Homo sapiens: one gene and its partner. The gene in region 2 interacts genetically with the main gene of each other region. Each region holds a gene or a part of one and is shown on either strand. Other genes may lie near its edges.

What was found.
Region 1: changes in KDM5A (region 2) and KDM6A together harm fitness more than expected from each alone (negative genetic interaction), as found in Homo sapiens cells (one large-scale study listed by BioGRID).

The regions. Positions count from the first base shown.
Region 1 is NC_000023.11:45,110,126-45,113,503, reverse strand, and holds the end of KDM6A (lysine-specific demethylase 6A), read right to left. Parts: coding exon 3,255-3,378; intron 2,123-3,254; coding exon 2,093-2,122; 3' UTR 725-2,092; downstream 1-724. UniProt on the Homo sapiens protein: Histone demethylase that specifically demethylates 'Lys-27' of histone H3, thereby playing a central role in histone code. Demethylates trimethylated and dimethylated but not monomethylated H3 'Lys-27'.
Region 2 is NC_000012.12:284,527-288,358, forward strand, and holds part of KDM5A (lysine-specific demethylase 5A), read right to left. Parts: intron 1,137-3,832; coding exon 930-1,136; 3' UTR 1-929. UniProt on the Homo sapiens protein: Histone demethylase that specifically demethylates 'Lys-4' of histone H3, thereby playing a central role in histone code. Does not demethylate histone H3 'Lys-9', H3 'Lys-27', H3 'Lys-36', H3 'Lys-79' or H4 'Lys-20'.

The DNA of each region.
Region 1 (3,378 bases), on a different chromosome or scaffold from region 2:
AACTAGAACAGGTTAAGAAACATTTAGGTGGTGCTTCAGCATTCTTATAATCTTTGCTTCTTGATGGTTGGCTTGCAATTTTTGTTTGCAAAAATGTTTGTCTTGAGTTCTCAATAACCTTTGGATAGGAGATTTTACAAGAAAACCACTTAAAAATATTAGTGATTAAATGTCCTGAATAGCATTTAGACAAGCATTCTTGCTCCATAATTAAAATAGATTTGGCATTTTTCCCTTAAATTATAAATAAGAGATGATTACTTCTAGTAGATAGCCAATATTTACCAAATTATTAACTAATCGAAAAAAGTATCTCCATGCTTTCAACCTTCAAACTGTTTCTAAGAGGATAACATACTCTAAATCTGAAAGAGTATGTGATTAATGCAATCAGCAGGGCATTTCACTAGATAGAATAAGCTCTCTTTAGCCATATATATATATAATCTTGATTTACAGCATTCTCTATGCTTCTTCACTAATGCTTCCTGGAAAATTCATACAAAGAACAATATGATTAAATGAGAGTATGTGTCAAATGCGTCAGAAAATGGAGGTACAAATGCAAGGTGCTGTTATTACAAAATGAAATACTATCATTAATTAGCAGTGACTTGTGAATGCTAATATAGATTGCTATATTTTACTAGTGATAGGGAATTTGCAGCACTCCTCCCCCAAATCATGTCATGCAAGCAAAAAAGCATGAGATTTCAAAACTGCCTAACATTAAAAAATAAGTCTCTTAATTTATTTGCATTCTAAAATAGAGCCCTTCATCCTGAATCCCCTTTTCCATATAAAATGGTACTAAGTATTGTACAGGATTTGTCAAGCCCATATAACAGTCCCTTTAAAATCTTAAGTTCAATCACTATTTGTTTTCTACTATTATACTACATTTTGGCAGCAATTGTTTATTGGTCTGTCATTGCAGTAATTGCAACTTAACAATAAACCAGTCTGACATTTTAGGTCTTGAGGATACATACCATATATATTTCTTTAAAAATAATCATACTTTTTGTAAGCAATACTTTACAGTAGACACCTCAAAAATCTACCATAGATGTGAAACTTAAAACGAGAAAAATTTAAGTTCTAAAGATTTATACATATATATCCAGATTTCTATATATATTATATATACATACATAAGTATATATAAAATATATATAATCAGATTTCAAAAATGAACAAAAACTGGGCACTGTACATAAAGTCTTTTTTAAAACTCAAACAATAGAAAACTCTTTAAACATTAAACAATTTTAATAAAAGTTTCTGTACAATGCTAAGCAGTTTTATTTACACATAGAAAATGTAATAGGAGTAGTGTTTGAAATTACAGAACTCCTTAAAATTTCAATGGCAGGTAAATCTGGAAAAAATAACAGCATTCCATTCACAAATATTTTCAAGCAATAAATATGTATTTATAAATAGTGTAAATTTACATCAAGATTAGAAACAAAAATCACAAATCTGAAGTTTATTCCTTAGTCTATGTGCAATCCATTACCTTTGTGACTTGGCTGTTAATTTTTTAAATTTTATTTAGGAACCAAAAGTGTAACCATCATGGTCTCAAAACAAGACAGAAAAACATAAAAGCAGTAAAAAAGTGTCTTACCTAACTTTTCACATTAAAAAAAAGTTGACCAAAGAAAGACTTAAAATTGCTAACTACCTTACAAAGAAATGACCAGCTAGGCTAGTATTTTTTTTCCAAGGAAAATTCTGAAGGGGGAAAAGACAGATGAAAACAAATTCATCAGCCCAGAAATAGAGAAATATAAAAGAGGTTGTCTTCAAGTCAGTAGTCTGTAAGATGTTGCCAGTTTTGTCAGATATATACAAAACATGGAAATTATTATTTTTTTCTGAAGTACAGCTCATCAGCTTTGTGAGAGTCCTGGAGTAGGAGCAGTACTCTCTCCCGTCCAGTTGGTTGACACTCCGCACTTGGAAGGTTGCATAGACACAGTTTTCAGCCAGCAGCCTTACGAGATAGCTACAAAAACCAGTGGTGCAGAACTGGGTTATTTCCTGAATAGCAGAAAAGGTCTCATTTAATGTCCATGGAACAATATCAAGATGAGGCGGATGGTAATGGAGGAGCCTGAAAATAAAAGTAAGGTAGGTTATTTTGATATACAAATTGTTAATAGCTCATGGCTACAAACATATAGTCTGCTTGTGAAGTTAGGGGAAATAACTCTCAAAAAGTTCAACAGCCTGCTATGCAACATAAAAGTACAGCCTACCTTACTATCTCCCATTCAGCCAATCTTCCTAAGAATCTAAGACCATTATCCTACTCAGTGTACTTGCAATTTTCTATACTTCTTCACCAATTAGTCAAAAACTCTTGGAATGTTATTACGTTTACCATTTTTTAAGATTGCTTAAAAAAAGGGGGCTTCTTGCAAAATAATTTAACAAATTACAATTTCACTAGTGACTGCCTTCAGAATCTATCTCAGCTAGGTAATATATTTTCTTCAACATATTTCAGATAATTTTCTTCTTCAAGCAATCTTGAAGACCATTCAAGTGAAAATATCAGAAAGTAAATTTCAAAAAGTTAGTTTCTGATCACATATGTGTGGGAGACAAGTACTGGAGAAAATCAACAATTCATAAATTATCTCTGTGTTTCTATTCATAAAGCTATTGATCTGCGAAAGTAAAATGCTTCCCCCAAGCATCTGCTGTCTGAAATTAAAAACTGTGCAATTTATAAGTATACTTGAATTTCATAAGGTTACATAATATACCAGGAAGTTAAGCTCCATTAAATACTCCCATGAGGTTAATACTTCTGGCAAGGACAAAATTTTAAACAAATACAATTAGCTCTAAAAGCAGAAGTATATTTAAAAGCACACTTACTGATTCATTTTGTGGGCTCTAATAACCTACGTACACAAACATTTTATCAACTGAGATAAAATGACATAAAGGATATGATAGTGTTCTATCTAAAGCACGCAAAGATTTTTAAATGTAATTGTTGTAAAATTATTTAGGCTGGTCTCACCCAGGAAAACTGAAAATGATATATGCCAATTTTATAGGAATAAATACTTGGAAATGGAGGGGGGAATGATATGAATATACCCTCATGCAATATATAATGAGCCAAAGGAAAATTTAAAATATTTCATTACCTCCTACTTATCAGGTGGCAGAGCAAACACTGCTGCTTCATAACCCAGCTAACTATGTACTCACATGTTGATTTGACTTACTAATGTAAATTGGTCATAGACTTGCATCAGGTCCTCCATTTTGTACTGTTCTAGCACCACAAAGTTTTCCAAGTTTCCGCTTGTTTTTCGTGCACAATCTTGGCAATGTACTATGTAGGTCTTT
Region 2 (3,832 bases):
ATGCCTGAAGCCTGGTGTCTGGAATACTTGTGAATGAAGTTTTCCCCGAAAAGCATGCATCACTGTGGCTCAGTAAGATAGTACGACTGGTCATCATCGTCATCTTCTTCTCTTTTTTTTTTTGGCAGAAGCCTGGATCCATGTACCTGCTCTTCCCTAAAATGTAGACCCAAGACAGCAAGACTTTTCAAAGCCAAAAAACGGCTCCTTGCCTTGTAGTAGGTTCTTCTCCTCAGAATCCAATCTAGTCAGATTTCTGATCTAGATGATATCCTCATCTTACAAAGATAAGGTGACCTGCCCCAGCTTGTGAGAGGTTCTCCTATTTGGGATGTTCTTCTAGCACAAACAAGCACAAATCGCTGAGGTCAATAGACTGTGATACCATTCCTTGACGTCTAACAGAAATAACTTTGGCCCTGTTACTCCTAGTTGTATCTTTAGGGCATTAAGTACCAGGTAACAGTGGAAGGAAAGTGGTACTCCAATCCCTCTCCAACTATCCCAATGAAGGAGATCCAAGCAATTAGCACCTTCAGTTGGTGCTGCTCCTAAGTTGTAAGCCTCTAACTACTATCAGCTGGACAAAAGCCACATCCTATATGCCCTGTTAGCACACCAATGTATTAATACTAACCAGCCACCCTAGAGCTCAATTAAGCATCTGGCCTTAATGCAGTAAACCACACTCAAAGGAGACATGAAATATTGGCTGTTGTACCAAAGAAGACACCCTCTGCATAGATATGTTGATAGAGAATGTAACCCACAGAGTCCATGCAAAGAGGAAGCCAGCACTAAGGGGACTTTCTCTGAAGGCCATTCATCTTTGGAAGCAACATTCCAAGTGGATATAAACCACTCTACTTGATGACTAAGGTCTCAATGTGGTCCATGTCCCCCCATGTCCCAAACTAACCAAGCATCTGCTAACTGGTCTCTTTAAGATCCTCCATTGGTAGTTTGTAGCTCATTATGAAGGAAGGAGGTGGTGCTGGACCTGGGCTAACTGGCCCCTGCTTCTTTGCACAGTTTATACAGATGTAATCTTCATTTTCAGCCATTTCTGGAGATACACCCACACAAACTTGATGAAACCACTCATCACAGCCACCATCACATTGTACCCAGTCTACCTGTAGGAAACAAGATTGGGGAATGTTTAGGTTACATAAACATTAAGCCTAGAATAAAAGCAAACCAAAGAGCTTTCTTGGCTTAAACAATAGCAAACAACTGGGATGTCTAGATAGGCAATGACTTCTTATGGGGTTATTTTTTAAAGAAAGAAGCTGAGAAGTTAATACCCCAAAATTATATTTCACCATAGTGTGTCCACAAAATTAGGCCTCTTAGGTACTCCATTACCTCATGAATACCTGGGGCTCCTTGTGAGGCAGAAACATGTTTGAGAAAAATTTGACAAAAAGGGAACTTCTAATAGAGCAGCCAAGTAGTTTTAGCTAATATTAACAATTTCTAGGCTCTAAGACAATGCAATTATCAATCAAGAAAGGAAGAGTACAACAATGTGAAGGCAATCCTGTGTATTAGCTTTATTTCAAAGAGATAAGCCAAAGTACTAAGAGCATTAAATACCTTTTTAGAAAAGCAGTCACATAGGCCACTTTTAAAACTAATATTTTTTATTCTTCTCTTCTTCCGTTACAAATACAACTCCCTATAAAAAGTTAGCAAATATCAGATGTCAAATCTTACAAATTAACCAATTATAACAGTCAAAGACACAGGTCAATAGATCACTCTGGGGTTTAAAATTAAAATCTGAAAAACTGATAGGTCAGTGGCAGGTGTCAAACTTTGACCCTTCTGACAATACTGTGATTACAGGAGGCTAGGAAGGGATTGTAGTTTGGTGACTTTAAGCCTTGGACTTAAGAGTTAACAATAAAGTGACTTTTGGCTTTTATATTTGAAGGCTGATTGTGGTAGTTTTTACAGCTAATGTCATGGCAGACAAGAACATTTAAGATGAAAAGAGCTACTCTTCCTCACCTCAATACCAAGGTTGGTCATTTCATTGGTAACGTTAAGAAGCCACTTAAAACCATGAGCTTTACCAGATATCAAAGTAAGGAATAGAAAGGGATCCAAGAAGTACCTCTATACAACTTAAGAGAAAGAACAGATGAAGGAGGTTTTGGCTAGGTAAATGAGTTTCATTCATAGCAACTGAGTAGTTTTCAAAATTAGTTTCCATGTCCTATAAAAAACTGTCAAAACCACAGTAGTCACGTCAGTAGTTTTAGGCTTGTAATAAGGGGTGGGAAAAATAATTTGTCAAAATGATATTCTACTTGTTTTGTTCCTATGCTAAAGTTCTAGATCTTAAGAGACAATATTGTGTTAACATCAAGATTACTCAACTCAGAAGCTCTGAGTTCCAGTGTGTATCATTTCAGGCAAGTCATTTAACCTGAGTGACTCAATTTCCTCATCTGAAAATGGAGATGACATTAATTACAAGATTACCGAGAGGATCCAATGAAATAATGTATGGCAAAACACCTAATTCACTGCCCAGGATACTGGAGGCACTTTCCAGTCATGGTCTCATGGCTCTACTCATTACCCTACACTACACAAAACGTTCTGCACCTTGATACAACTGTCGGCAGCACTGCTTTTCAAAGTGTGTAGACCACTGGCATCAGAATCATCTATTGTGTTTGTTTAAAATGTAGCTGGGACCCATCACCCTATGAACTCAGAATATCTGGGGAGTACAAGCCAGAAGCTTACATTTTTAATCAGCTCCCAAGTGATTCTCATATATTCTAAATCCGATCATTGCTGGCCCTCTGTGATATCACTTCCTGTAAATTCAGAGCAACTTAACAATACCTTCCTAAACTGATTTTTGTTCTGTAATTGATTGTTTAGCTTCTGAAGTCTGTGCAATAAAAAAACTCACCAAAATGTTCCTATTGTAGCAAACTAATCAGAGACCAAAAAAAAAAAAAAGGGGGAAATAATGGCATCTGTGCAAAATGTAAAAATTAAAGTACTGCAAGCAGTAAAAACACAAAATGCTAGCTGTAGAGTACGTGCACTCAGAGTGAGTGTTTTGGCTGTTTGGGACTGGTAAAGGGAACTGGATAGATAAACTGTGGTTCTCTGTGCTGCCCAGGTTTGAGATACCATGCTTTTTATAATGGTACCTGTGAACCAACAGTTACCTTCACCCTTACACCTCCAACCCTCTTTCTTAATCCAGTCTAGTCCCCATTCATGCTAATCCATTGGATAAGAATGTTATTAATGTATCAGTATTTGCTACAAAGAAAAGTGTCCCATGTCTTTTTAAATCTAGTGTTTGCACTATACTCACTGGCTTACAATTTCCCAAAATTCTCTTACAAATAAGACAATACTTTCCCTTTTGTGATTTTGACTAAAGGTCCCTTCCTAAGCCCAGATCTTCTACCATTTCAAAAGAGTATATAACCTTCCTTGAGATACTGGTACACAAATTCTAACCTAGACTACAGGTTATATAACAATTTAGCCTGATAATAGAACAAGCAAAAAATAGTCCTTCTCTTTACCAATATCTTTTTTATCATGTTCATCTACTAACAATCAACTCTGAGTTCTACTTTTGTGTGAAAGGCCCACAGCAACATAAAGCAAACTAAAGTTTGGGATGTCAACTGAATCCACAGATGATTTTGACACAGGGGCAACAGACTATGTAGTATCCTGAAAACTCAAGAACACAGAATTTGGATAACTGTATAAATTGTCATTTCCCCCCCTTTCATTATTTCTAGGAGATGTATTTAGTGAATCACAAAAATAATTACTAAAC